Linked DNA regions of Homo sapiens. The protein of the gene in region 4 interacts with the protein of the main gene of each other region in a pairwise test. Each region holds a gene or a part of one and is shown on either strand. Other genes may lie near its edges.

Evidence for each region. The genes of interacting proteins can lie anywhere in the genome.
Region 1: the proteins of PLSCR4 (region 4) and C1orf94 interact in a two-hybrid assay, tested with the Homo sapiens proteins (one large-scale study listed by IntAct).
Region 2: the proteins of PLSCR4 (region 4) and NID2 interact in a two-hybrid assay, tested with the Homo sapiens proteins (one large-scale study listed by BioGRID).
Region 3: the proteins of PLSCR4 (region 4) and APLN interact in a two-hybrid assay, tested with the Homo sapiens proteins (one large-scale study listed by BioGRID).

Annotation. Positions count from the first base shown.
Region 1 is NC_000001.11:34,200,907-34,204,406, reverse strand, and holds part of C1orf94 (uncharacterized protein C1orf94), read right to left. Parts: coding exon 3,375-3,500; intron 2,324-3,374; coding exon 2,148-2,323; intron 1-2,147.
Region 2 is NC_000014.9:52,062,560-52,066,059, forward strand, and holds part of NID2 (nidogen-2 precursor), read right to left. Parts: intron 1-3,500.
Region 3 is NC_000023.11:129,644,957-129,648,456, forward strand, and holds the end of APLN (apelin preproprotein), read right to left. Parts: intron 2,962-3,500; 3' UTR 303-2,961; downstream 1-302. UniProt on the Homo sapiens protein: Peptide hormone that functions as endogenous ligand for the G-protein-coupled apelin receptor (APLNR/APJ), that plays a role in cadiovascular homeostasis. Functions as a balanced agonist activating both G(i) protein pathway and beta-arrestin pathway of APLNR.
Region 4 is NC_000003.12:146,202,606-146,206,105, forward strand, and holds part of PLSCR4 (phospholipid scramblase 4), read right to left. Parts: intron 1-3,500. UniProt on the Homo sapiens protein: Catalyzes metal ion-induced ATP-independent rapid bidirectional and non-specific movement of phospholipids (lipid scrambling or lipid flip-flop) between the inner and outer leaflet of the plasma membrane and participates in the redistribution of phospholipids between membrane leaflets.

The sequences.
Region 1 (3,500 bases), on a different chromosome or scaffold from region 4:
CTCCACAATGGGGTGTGAGCTTTCCCTCCCTCGGGAGGGGACGGGTACTTGTTCTCTTTAGCAAACACACACACAAACAAAAAGCTTGAAAACAAAACAGAGAGAGACTTTGCTAAGTTCCTTTAAGATTCAGAAACTAAGCCTGGTGGACCAGCTTGAAGAGTCTTTATATGCAGAAGAGCCAATCCCCTTTCCCAATAGGACATAAGGTTTGTGCTGTGTTGAAAGGGAAAGAATGACATAGGGTTCCTAGGAGTGGAGAGCGGGGAAGGGACATAGCAACAGGACAAGCCGAGTTGGAAGTATTTCCTTCTTTGCTTTCTCACTTCAGGCTGTGCTGGGCCAGGCTGGGGCAGCAAATTGCCAAGGTCCTGAGTGCACAAATTTGAGTTCCTGCCCTTCCCCATACAATGACATACAATTCTGGAGAGAAGCCAGTGCGAGGAACAGAAGACAGAAATCTTAGGCATGGAGAATCTTTCCTGAAAAAATTGAGTTCTACCTAAAGGGACTATTTAAGTTATTGGATTGGGCTAAGGCTTAAACCAGAGTGGACATTTATTTAATTTTTCCCTCCTTCTACCCAGTGGGCGGCAGCTCTTAAGGGATATTAAGTTAAATCGACAAAATAAAGAAACTACATTTTCCCTGCATAAATAAGTTCTGTGAGTAGAATTTCCAGCCCTGCTACAGGTGCTTCACTGTCCCTTTGTGTCTGGCCATTGATTTTCTCCTTTAGCTATGATCCCAAGAACAAGAATGTGTGCCAAGCCACCTTGGTTGGTACAAAGCTAAGACTGCTTGGTGTAGTTTAAGTAAGGTGGCCATATACACTCATTCCACGGTATCCTCAGAGGATTGGTTCCAAGACCACCCTCCCTCCCCTGCCCTGTGGATACCAAAATCTGAGGATGCTCAAGTCCCTGATATAAAATGACATACAAAGATGCTCAAGTCTCTGATATAAAATGGCATTTGAGGGCCGGGTGCGGTGGCTCACCCCTGTACTCCCAGCTCTTTGGGAGGTGGAAGCAGGTGGATCACATGAGGCGGGGAGTTCAAGACCAGCCTGGCCAACATGGTGAAACCCAGTCTCTACTAAAAATACAAAAATTAGCGCACATACCAGTAATCCCAGCTACTTGGGAGGCTGAGGTAGGAGAATCGCTTCAACCTGGGATGCAGAGGTTGCAGTGAGCCAAGGTCATGCCACTGCACTCCAGCCTGGGCGATAGAGTGAGACTCTGTCTCAAATAAAATAAAATGGCATATGAGGATGATCTAGTCCCTGATATACAATGACATATAAAGATGTTCAAGTGCCTGATATAAAATGGCATATGAGGATGCTCAAGTCCCTAATATAAAATGGCATAGTATTTGCATGTAGCTTATGCGCATGCTCCTGTATCCTTTAATCTCTAGATTACTAACAACGCCTAATAATGTACTATGTAAATAGTTATTATACTGTATTATCTTTTACTCGCATTATTTTTTGTTGTTGTATTTTGTTGTTGTTGTTGTTGTTTTCTTCTTCAAGTAGTTTCCATCCAAGATTGGTTGAATCTGTGGATTTGGAACCCATGGATACAGAGGGCTGACTGTAATTTGTTGTCCAAACCAGGACACTTGAGAGTGAAAAGGGATGCCATTCATATTATTCTGGAACAGAAGACCTAAATTGGGACTGTCCCAAATAATCTGGGATATATGTCATCCAACTTCAAAGGAAGTCACAGGAGAGAGGTGGGAAACAAGGACTGTGACATCATCTTCTCCTGGGAGCCCAAGCACTTAACCAGCCACAACTAGCAAAGAGACTCTGCAATAAAGAGCACAGTGTGAACTGGAATTCGGACAATGGAAAGTTAGGACTAAATATACATATGTGTGTGTGTGTGGAGGTGTGCGCACGCATGCACATGAACCAAGGGGTAGATCTGATGTGACTACAATGAAAAAAATAACCAACAAGCTGACAAGTTGACAGCGCCCTTCCATAGCCCCAGCGAAGCCTCTTGCATGTAGGGAAGGGATTCAGAGGAGTCTAAAGACTCTGTGAAATAGACCCCCTGCCAGCCACTCCTTCTCTGTGGCCAAAACCCCCGTGGATGTCCACAGGAGAGCCAGGCCAGCTCACTGACCTGATACTGCAAGAAGGTAGAGTGATTCGTGAACACTGGTGGAGGTGGATAGTTCAGGTTGAGCCAGAGTGGCTGGTTCAGGGTTGCTGAGGTCATGGCTGTAGGAAAGTGTGGAGTGAAAACATTCCCTGTGTACTTCGGGTTGTTCTTGTCAGCAACCGTCACAGGTGCGTTAACTGCAAGTCACAGGAGAGGCAAAGCGGGTCAGTGATGGAGGCAGGGAGAGGCCAGGACACCTTCAGCATCGCAACTTCCTTAGGGATTCACAGTCTCACAGGTCAGGTCCTTTAAGCTCCAAGAGGGTTCTTCAAAGTTCTAGTACATTTCCAACTATAGGTAAACATCATTAGTTCACACCTTGCCAGTTTGGAAGGGATGAAAATCCCAGAAGGTCTGGCTTGGAGCTTTTCTTTCCATCATTCACTAGTAAAGAAGGCAATTTAGCAAGGGAATACAATAAGCCAGATTGCTAGGCCTATATTTCACCTACTTACAAAATGAAATTCTTTCAACTGCTTTGGAAAAATCCAACTTTATGTGAACCATTGCTATGCCATTGGAATTCATCCTTATCAAATGATTAAAGCAGCCCCTCCCTAAGGACATATATTTGGCAACACTAAGAAACTTTCACAGGTTGTTGTATCTATATGGGAATTTTAAAAATTATATTTTAAAACATTAAATAATTCAGCATGCAGTGACTCAAAATTGGTCTAAACAAATGAAGTTAGGTTGAGTTGTTTCAAGATCAGAATCCTGGATTCTTCCTTTCTACAAGATGTTGTGGGGGCTTATAAAATCAGAAATGGGTCCTCAGTTTCCCCTTATTGGCATCCTTTTGGGAAAAGAGGTTTGACTAGAACCCTTGTAGGAAAAGAAAGCGGGAACATAATCTCAATATAGAAATAATCTAAAGCAAGGATCTTTTGTTTTGGCTTGGGCAATTTGAGAGGATATAATACATGCTGGGTCAGGGCTATATTCAGAAGTGACCATTAATAATGCTGACGTGACCCTTGAAAGCCAACTACACTTCTCTAGCAACTGTATTCCCAACAAGGGATATGGGGAGAAAGTCATTGCCCCCATTTTATGGGTTTAAAAACTGACACCTCTAGAAAGGCAGTAGATAAGACAGCCACTTGGTGACAGAGCCACCCTGAAGCCTGTGAGGGTCACTGCAACCCCCTCCCCTCCAATCCCTCCCTGGGTAGGTCAGCTCACATTTCAGCTCCGGCCCATCCACTTCCACTTTGTTTCGAAGTCTCGGCTGCCCGCTTGGGTTCTTGGTGGCCCCAAGGAACTCATAGAGCAAGTTCTTCTCGGCTGGACATGTAGGTTTCTTGGGCG
Region 2 (3,500 bases), on a different chromosome or scaffold from region 4:
GTACTAGAGGAAGGAGAAAAAACCCCATTTCAAAAAGCTAAGCTTTCAAAGCTCCTGGCATTGATCTGCCATAATAAATGTGAGATAGGAGAGAATCCTGGTTCTAAATTTAGAGAAATTCCATAAGATAAGGAGGTTGTAGAGACTGTGAAGAATTGAAGGGGATGGGGAAGGGGGGAAGAGAGTAGTAAACAGAGCTGTGAAGAGGAGAGTCTGACTTTTTGCTGTGAACTCTGGGCATTTAGCACTTTATTTTATTCATTCATTCATTCAACCAGCCAACAAATTCATTTCAATTAAAATTTATTCAACATCTTCTATATACTGTTCTTGAGATGAGCACTCATTATGGGTGGCAAGTATTTAATTTCTTTGTCTCCACCAAAATAGGCAAATATCAGAGGAAGGAAACAACTTCCTTTTAAGTAGAATTTATGATCCCAAAGTACACGCCAAAAGAGTTTGGCTGTTTAAAAGCCACCCACACACTAAATGATCACTTGTAAAGTTCTTGGTCAGTTCTACAAAATTCTACATCTAATTGCTAAAGAGCCCACTTCATGAAGTCTTGAAGGGCTCCCCCTCTCAAAAAACTCCTTGACTGGCTTCCAAACAGGAAAGGTCCTCACATTCCTAGATACAAGCTTTTGCAAGAGCCGCACAGGCTCTGTCTCCAAAGAGAAGCCCTCAGATGGGCTGCCAAACCTGACAAACGAGTCACTGGTTCCCAGCTCCCCCAGGATCCCAGAGAGGAGAGAGGGGCCTCCACAGGGAGAGGAGCAGCACAGAGAGGATCAGGGTGAGTGGCTGCAGGCCCTGTTATCAGAAAGAGAGAAAAGCCAGAGCCCTCTGCAGAAACCAGAGCCTGACTCTCCCTCCCAGGTACAGGACATCCCAATCAATGTTGAAGTGACACTCATCAGAGCCAGGCTGATGCATGCAACATACACCCCTCTAAGAGTTTCTAATTTTTTCAATTCATTTAATTAACTGCAGCTATCTGGACAAAAATCAGAATAGTGACATCCTTTTCTTCAAGGGGCTTGCCTATAGAGGCTTATCAAAATGAAAATGAAAATGGAAATGAAGAATTAGGGTGACTCTTATAGGGGTCACAAAGTTCTCTTTGTCATCTTCCTCAGGACCACATGTCCTCTAGAGCTCTAGGATCATTGGGTCTGGCCTCCAGTGTTTGCTGTGAACACTAACCTCCATTCCTTAGTGTAGTTCTTCATCTCCCACTGCCTGTAGGACACTGTCACATGGGGGACTGTCCCTCATTTATTTTACTGCACTAAATCCTACAGATCCTGCCAAAAATTCAAAGACAAATGCTGAGTGCTATCACATCCCTAATACTATATCCTTCCTGATACTCTTCAGCAAAACGTCAGCATTTCTAATTTCCATATATGGTTCAGCATTAACCAATTTCCATATATGTCTCTATTCTCTTCATCTTCACAGTGATATCTCAGACTCAGTCTGAACTCTCTTGGATGGGCTGTAGACCACCCCTCTTCTAAACCTTGTCTCCAGAAGTCAAAAAGCTACAATAAAGTCCTGCTTTTACCTCTCATTTTCTCTGTGAAATCCAACCACCTCCATCAATGACTATCAACCTTTGAACCAAGTCAACATGTCTCAGTCTCCACCCAGATGGAGGCCTCCATTGGGCAGTGTCTTAATTTGTCTTCTGTTGTTTACAACAAAATACTTGAAATTGGGTAATTCACAAAGAAAAGGAATTTACTTCTTACAATTATGGAGGCTGAGAAGTCCAAAGTTGAGAGGTCACATCTGGTGAGGGCCTTCTGGCTAGTGGTGACTGCAGAGTGCCAGGGTACTTACGGTATCACATGGCGACAAAGCTGAGTGTGCTAATGTGCTAGCTCAGGTCTCAATTCCTCTTCTTATAAAGCAACCAGGCCCACTCCATGATAATCCAGTAATCCATGAATGAATAAATTAATCCATTCCTGAGGGCAGAGCCCTCATGACCCAGTCACCTTTCAAAGGCCCCACCTCTCAATACTGTCACATTGAGGATTAAGTTTCAACATGATTTTCAGAGGGGACAAATATTCAACCATAGCGGGCAACCTTGCACTCATCTGTCTTATGTTACTGCCTGTGACTCCTTCATCCATTTCTCTGGCCCCTTTGCTAATAGGTTGCTCTCTCAACCTTCTCCTGGGTCATGTTTTTGCTCAGAACAATCTCTCTTGATACCTCATTCTCAATATCCATTCTTTTTAGCCCTTTCAACCTGACTTAAATTCCAGATAAACAAAACATTCCCCACATTACAGAGATCTATATAACTCAGCTGTCTCTAACCCCATCCCTAAAATGACAAAAACAAAACACTCCTCTTTCCCCACAAAAAGCACAGCTAAACATTAGTCCTCTATGTCTCCCATCAATAAGTATTTCAAAGGTCTACACCATAACTTTTTTGCTCTGTGAACTACCTATGAGAGTTCAAGAAATCTCAGATTAACTGAATTGACAAACACTATTTGTTCACATTTTTTTTTCAGATACAATTACACCTTGACATTCCTGCAATATCAGGTGCAACATCTGGTCACACCTGACAGGAATATCCATGGAGAAAAAGGGCACCAACTGCAATTGTTTTTAATGGCAAAGATGCCATTGCTTTGAATCTTCCAGTTTCCAGTAACTTTGCAATATAAAGTTAGTAAGCCAAACTTTAAGAACGCCATGTAGAACTCAGTCCTTCAAGCAAATTAGATTACTGTTTGCCAAAGTCTATCTCCAAAGAACTATTAAAACAAGAACTCAAGTCCCAGAGCTCTTTAAAATATTGGAAGAAACTTCAATGTGGGTAATTGAAAGAACATCCCCTATCCAAACAGAATCCTCCTTTCTTTTTTTTTTTTTTTCCCCTTTCTTTTTTATTTATTTATTTATTTATTTATTTATTTTTTATTATACTCTAAGTTTTAGGGTACATGTGCACATTGTGCAGGTTAGTTACATATGTATACATGTGCCATGCTGGTGCGCTGCACCCACTAACGTGTCATCTAGCATTAGGTATATCTCCCAATGCTATCCCTCCCCCCTCCCCCAACCCCACCACAGTCCCCAGAGTGTGATATTCCCCTTCCTGTGTCCATGTGATCTCATTGTTCAATTCCCACCTATGAGTGAGAATATGCAGTGTTTGGTTTTTTGTTCTTGCGATAGTTTACTGAGAATGATGGTTTCCAATTTCATCCATGTCCCTACAAAGGACATGAACTCATCATTTTTTAAGGCTGCATAGTATTCCATGGTGTATATGTGCCACATTTTCTTAATCCAGTCTATCATTGTTGGACATTTGGGTTGGTTCCAAGTCTTTGCTATTGTGAATAGTGCCGCAATAAACATACGTGTGCATGTGTCTTTATAGCAGCATGATTTATAGTCCTTTGGGTATATACCCAGTAATGGGATGGCTGGGTCAAATGGTATTTCTAGTTTTC
Region 3 (3,500 bases), on a different chromosome or scaffold from region 4:
TCTCCTATTGATCATTTTTATGACTTTTTAGGGAGTTTGTTTGAAGACCCTTTCTTTAAAATTGTATATTTCTAGCACTAAATACTTGTCAAATCTATAGGATTTCCCACGAGATTTATCAAATGAACCCATTTTGATCCCTCCTCTCTGCTTCTCACTGAGTTTTGCTCTGTACTGTGTATTCCTGTGTGCACCTAATGGGTTTATTAACCAAATTAGCATGTACCCAATGTTCCCTTCTGTTCTGCAAGATATTGGCATTTTGACAACAAACGTGAAGTGATGAGACAGATGGGGCAGAATTATATTGAACTCTTTGCATTTTATTTTTCAGGCTATCTCATTCATCAAGCAACTCTACTTTGTGAAACATAAAATGATACAAACAAAGTCATTATCAAATGTATTTATTGCTGAAAACATAACATTTTTCAAGAAAGGCAAACTGGCTAAAAAGTCCTGAAAGTGTTCAAAAGTAGATAAAATAGCAGAAGACACCCACCAAGGATACAAAACAATTTTTAGTAGCGATCCTGCATTTAATCAGTATGTTCTTAAATAAACTGCTTTAAAAAAATTCTTCAAATGACACTGCCAAAAAAATTAGGACACCCAAACAGATGCCAGAAAACCTGTAAGTGGGCTGGATTTTATGTGACCTGGTCATTAAGCATAGGGATTCATTTTGTGAGCTCATGGCAAATCAGTTTGAGGCCAGTTGACCTAGAACCGATTTGGGATGCAGGCACTTACCTCCCTGCACGTGCAATATGTGGGCATGGGGACACCCATGACCCCCAGGGGAAAGGAATGCCCCTCCTGAACATGACCTCCAAGAGTAAGGGCGAACTGTCAGCTTTTAACTGTTTATTATAAAGACATATTTACACAGAACAATCTTTACAAACATTGAACACAGGGGAAGGGAACAATTTCTTAATGAACAGGGCCTTAATATCTTTGTATAAATTAGTATAAGAATCATAAACAACCACTTTAAATAAGGCAGCCCCCCTAGCCCACCCACTACCCTCTTCTGTTCCCTATCTCCCAGCTTTCTTAGCCATCCCCCACTTTCTCCCCTTCCCCACGGGGCTGGGCTTGGCTGCAGGTCATGGCAGGCCGATGAGGCAGGAGACACAGAAAGGAAGGGGGAAAGAAGGCCCAATCCCTGATGGGGGCGTCAGTGGCAGAAGAGACTTTCTGGGCACCGACCAGTCCCCACTCCAAGCATGAGCCTTTAAGCAGCAGCAGCAGCAGCAGCAGCGTTAGCAGCAGCATAGGTAAAGGGGCTTGGGGGAGGTGGATAGGCAAACATTGGGGCTATTGTGGGACTTGGGGGGCCCTGACTCCCCCGTCCCCACACACACAAAGTTGGGCATCAGGCTCTTGTCTTCTCTTTCTCCCTCCTGGGAACCCTGCTCAAGCAAAAGGGGAGAAAGCCCCCTCCAAGGAATGGCTGGTGATGGCCCCTCACGGAAGCTAGGGCCTCCCGGGGAGAGGGTGCTATTCCTGCTGCACTTCCTCCCATCTTTCTTTCCTTCCTTCTGTTCCTTTGCTTTCTTTTCTTCCCTCCTTCCTTCTGCCCTTCCCTTCCTTCTTCTCCCCTCTCCGCCTCCCCCAAAGGAAAAGCCCTGGAAGGAAGGTCCGGTCAACACGAAGGGAAGGCCATGGAGTCCAGTGATTGAAGGCTACCTCGGACTCCTGAAAACCACCCTGGGGTTGAGCGGTAGTCTCAGTGCCTGAGCCGCCCCTATTAGAGTACCCTGGGTCTGGGAATGCTGCCAGTTATGGGGGCAGCTGGCCAGTTATGGAACCTTCCAGCCCAGCTGGGGGAATGGTGCAGCAGGGGTAGGTCAGGGAGGTGGGAGCAGCTCCAGCCCCACAACAGGACAGTTCACAGCCAGCTTGCCTCTCCCTTCCCTTCCCCTCCCAGCCACCCCCAGCCCCAGCCTCGGGAAAAGGCACTTCATTTGCTTTGAAAAGACATCATCAAGAGGGAAGAGGGCGTCATAAAGTAGGAGATGGGAGACCTGGTCCCCATCCCGGCTCTGCAATGACTCTGAGCAGGTCACTCCCCTCTCCAGGCTTCTGTTTTGCAGGCGTTTGCCTAAGAAGGCTAAGTGACCTTCAAGGGTCCTGTCAGCTCTAACATTCTGTGATTCTTGGCAAAAACAACCTCTTGCTTGGCTTTTACTCCTGGGAGGGTATATAGCCATGTCAGGCCCAGCACCCTCCCCTCCTGACCTGGAGCTTGGGCTAGCTGGGGATGGGGTGTGGGGGCAGGAAGAAGGGAGTATTGGGAGGCACACTAAGGCAAGAGAAGTGACAAAGGACTTCACGGGCCCCTCTCTACCTCTCCCTTAACTGAGCAAACGCTGATGCTCCACCCACTTCACCAGAGCTCCTGAAAACCACCCTGGCACTTCCATGCCCCCAATGTGCCCTGTCTGGATCCCCGCAGCCAGCACCTCTTAACTAGAGTCTCTCCTTGCTTTTCTCTGCATTCTTCCCTGGAGGCCAGGTGAGGGGTCCAACTGACAGGAAAACAAGGGATCTGCTGGAGCCCACAGAAGGGAGCACTTCCACCCCGCGCTCAGGGCAGACATGAGGAAGGAAGGCCCAAATGAAGGTTTGGGGCGTTAGATGAGACAGGCAGGGACTAGGGCGGAGGGGACCTGGAGAAGAAGGGAGGCTTTCTGGGGCTAGGTCTCCAAAGTCAGTCCAGGGAGGGGCCAGGAAGATGGACTGGACGGATTCTTGTGAGAGAACGGGAATCATCCAAACTACAGCCAGGAGCACGCCACTGGGGGAAGCAGGCAGGTGAGAAGAGCTGGGCCCACTGGTGGCTACAGCAGGTGCGAGGTGAGAGCTGAATGGACGTGAGGCCTCCAGAGAAGCAGACCAATCTATGGAGGAGACATAACCGCCGGGGGTGGGCACTTGGGGGCCCCTTCAGTCCTAAGGAGACAAAAATGACAAGAGAGAAGTCATGGACATATCCTAGGCCAAAGGAACTCCCCAGGAAAGGAGAGGAGAGAGGAGACCGCCTTCTCTTTCCCCCAAACTCCACTCAGCCCAAACCTCAATCCCAAGGCCCCTGAGTTGGTGCCTGCCTGTCCCCACTGCAGTGGGACAGCCAGCAGACCAGGGAAGGGGCAGGCTTCAGCTCTCCTCTCTCTGCTGCCACCTTGGTTCTTCCCTCCTTCTCACAGCTCCGGGCAACCACAGCCACAACTGTCCTCTTGTTCTCTGCCTGAGAGCCCCTAGAGCTCTCTGCCTCCTTCCCCAACTCTGGCGACAATCTACACTGGACATCTGTAGGTTTGCCCTGGGCACCCCTCCCCAGCCATTAAGGTCCACCAGGATGTCTAGAAATCTCTAAGCAGGCCAGCCTCCCCAACCCCAGGCAGCAGGGTGGAAGGGAGACTGGCCCCAAGTATCAAGCCCCTCTCTAGGCCTCAGACGAGGAGATCGTCTGTAAAATAAAGGGGCTAGAC
Region 4 (3,500 bases):
AAAAGATAATGAAGTTTGCCATATCAATTGACTGACTCTTCTCTGCATGAAAGATTTCCTTGTAGCACATGATGTTCTTTTTAGTACTTTACCACAGTAGAACTTCCTTCAAAATTGGAGTCAATCCACCTAAAAACTGCCACTGCTTTATCAATTATATTTGTGTAGTATTCTAAAACCTTTGTCATTTCAACAATGTTCACAGAATTCTCACCAGGAGTAAATTTCATCTCAAGGAAGCACTTTCTTTGCTTATACATAAGAAGCAAGTGCTCATCTGTTAAAGTTGTATCATGAGTTACAGTAATTCAGTCACATCTGCAGGTTCCACTTCAAATTCTAGTTCTCTTGCTGTTTCCATCATATCTGAAATTACTTCCTCCACTGAAATCTTGAACCCTTCAAAATCATCATAAAAGTGGCAATCAGCTTCTCCCAAACACCTGTTAATGCTGATATTTTGACCTCTTCCCATGAATCATGAATGTCCTTATTGGCATCTAGAATGGTGAATCCTTTCCACATGGTTTTCAATTTATTTTGCCCAGATCTGTCTGAGAAATGACACCATCTATGGCAACTATAGCCTAACGAAATTCATTTTTTTAACAATAAGACTTGTAAATTGAAATTATACTTTGACCCATGGGCTGCAGAATGGATGTTGTGTTAGCAGGCATTAAAACAACATTAATCTCCTTATACGTCTCCATCAGAGCTCTTGGGTGACCAGATGTGTTGTCAGTGAGTAGTAATGTTTTGCAAGAGACCCTAACAGGGAAGTCAGTCTGTCCTTTGAAGTTTTCACGTCAGGCGTTGACTTCTACTTTTTAGCTATGAAAGTCCTAGAAGGCATCTTCTTCCAACAGAAGGCTGTTGCATCTATATTCAAAATCTGTTGTTTAGCAGAGTCACCTTCATCAATGATCTTGTTATAGTTAGGATCTTCTGAAAAACTTACTGCAGCTTCTACATCAGGACTTGCTGCTTCACCTTGCACTTCTATGTTACAAAAGTGCCTTTTTTCCCCCCTTAAGCCTTGTGAGCCAACCTCTGCCAGCTTCAAACTTTTTTTTTCTGTAGCTTCCTCACCTTTCTCAGCCTACATAGAATTTAGGAGAGATAGGGCTTTGCTCTGAATTATGCTTTGGCTTAAGGAAATGTTGTGACTGGTTTGATCTTCTTTCTAGACCACTAAAACTTTCTCCATATCAGCAATTAGGCTCTTTTACTTTTCACCATTCATATGTTCATTGGAGTAATATCACTTTCAATTTCCTTCAAGAACTTTTCCTTTGCATTCACAGCTTGGCTAACTGGTGCTAGAAGACTAGCTTTTGGCCTATCTCAACTTTCAACATGCCTTCCTCATTAAGCTAAATCATTTCCAGCTTTCTTATTTACAGTGAGAGATGTGCAATTGTTTCTTTCACTTGAACACTCAGAGGCCATCACAGGATTATTAACTGGCCTAATTTCAATATTATTGTGTCCCTTCCTGGAACTCAATAATATGTGTCTGTTAAGGGGTAGTTCTTTGACAAATTGGTAAAGTCACTGGTAAAGCCAAGACTCTGAAAATAATATAATCGTGCTAATTTGGATGTTTTAGGATTCTTGGGAACCTTGATAAAGATTCATGTAATCTTCATGTGAGATCTCAAAAAGACTAGGGTAGATAGAGGAAAAAGATTGGCTCTATGTCTTGCATTCACACATAAGAAGGTATTTAAGCTAATAACAGCCACATAGCTTTCATCCATTGGGACGGCCCTTTATGTCAAAAATATTAGGCACATTGTGACCCTTATCTCATTAAAAATTCTCCTAACAATCTGGTAAGGTAGGTATTGATAATACTATTTTATAGATGATAAAATTCAAGCAGCAAGAGGTTAGAAATTTTATCAAAGTTTTTGAGTTACTAGAGAGTAGGACAGAATTAAAAAACCAGGTTTGCCTGGGTCCAAACCTGTGTTTTGTTTATTTTTTCACTTATTTCTTTAACTCTAAATATTCCTAAAAGGGAAAACTCATAAAATACGTTAAATTAACCTCTGTCAGAATCATAAAAGAAATTAAGAAACAAGTTTTTAATATTTAAATAAACAAAGCTATACAATTTGAAAAGAGAATTGACTGTAGAAGATGTTAGATTCCCAAGAACAACTTCTGTATTTATCACCAAGTATAGAAATGAGACTTTCTAAACTTGATAAGCTACAAACATTTTATTATCTTCTGAAATAATGTAGATGTTTACTCTAGCACTTCACCTGAATGAGTTTTGCATTTTGTCAAAATTTTGTCCAAATAATAATTTAGGATAAATTTTGGCTTTTGTAAAATCCAAATTTTCCTGATCCAACTGTATTGACTTCTATACACCAATGTTATAATATTATACAAATAGTTTTCAGCACACAAGATTATCAGGGTCCCTGTCAATATACAGAATTGAAAAGAGAAATGACAGAACTCGAGGAAATACTTGGCTGTTGACCTGGGGAGGTAAGTATTAAATTGGGAAGTTTCTTCTTTATAATGTATTTCAGCACTTCCTTTTTCTATAAACAACAACAAAAAAGATTCAGAAGGTTCTATGGAATCTCCAATAAAGTAGTCTCCCTCTTATCCTCAGGGGATACTTTCCAAGCCCTCAGTGGATACCTGAAACCACAGATTGTACCAAATCCTGTATATACTATGCACAAATTTTTCTTTTCTTCTTTACAATTTCATGGACATATTAATTTTACTATAGATCTTAGTAACCTTAGCATAGGAATTTTTTTATTATTAAGTAAAAAACCTTCACCTTTACATGGAAAGGAAGACCTTATGGCCTCTCTTTGGTCTTTCCTTGACATATCCAAATTCCCAGCATTACTACTCTTGTGCTTTGGAGACATAATTAAGTAAAATAAGTTACTTCAATGCAAGCACTGTGATACTGTAAGTCAATCTGATAACCAAGATGTGACTCTGGGTCTGTATACTATGGATAACATCTACAGCGTGGATACACTGGACAAAGGAATGATATATGTGCCAGGCAGAACACAGCAGGACTGTGCAAGATTTCATCATGCTACTCAGAATAAATTTAAAATTTATGAATGGTTTATTTCTAGAATTTTCCATTTAATATTTTTGGAACCTGGTTGACCATTGGTAACTGAAACCGCAGGAATCAACGCCACAAATAAAAGGCGTCTACTCTGCCAGCTTTATCTTATTTTCATTAAGCAGGTTTTTTAGTTTCAGACATGGGTTTTTAAACAAAACTATTTGTGCACAAACTTCCCATATTACCCCAGTTTTTGATCTGCATGTCCTGGTGGCAGCAGAATATCTACATAGATGTTAATTAGGGAGTTATTGTGTTGTATGAAGGGGGTCTCTGGAACTTGGCCTGAAGCAATATTCTTTGTAGGGTCCATTATTTTTATTTATATTGTTTGTTTTTGGGGGTGACAAGAGTAGCTAATGAAAATGAT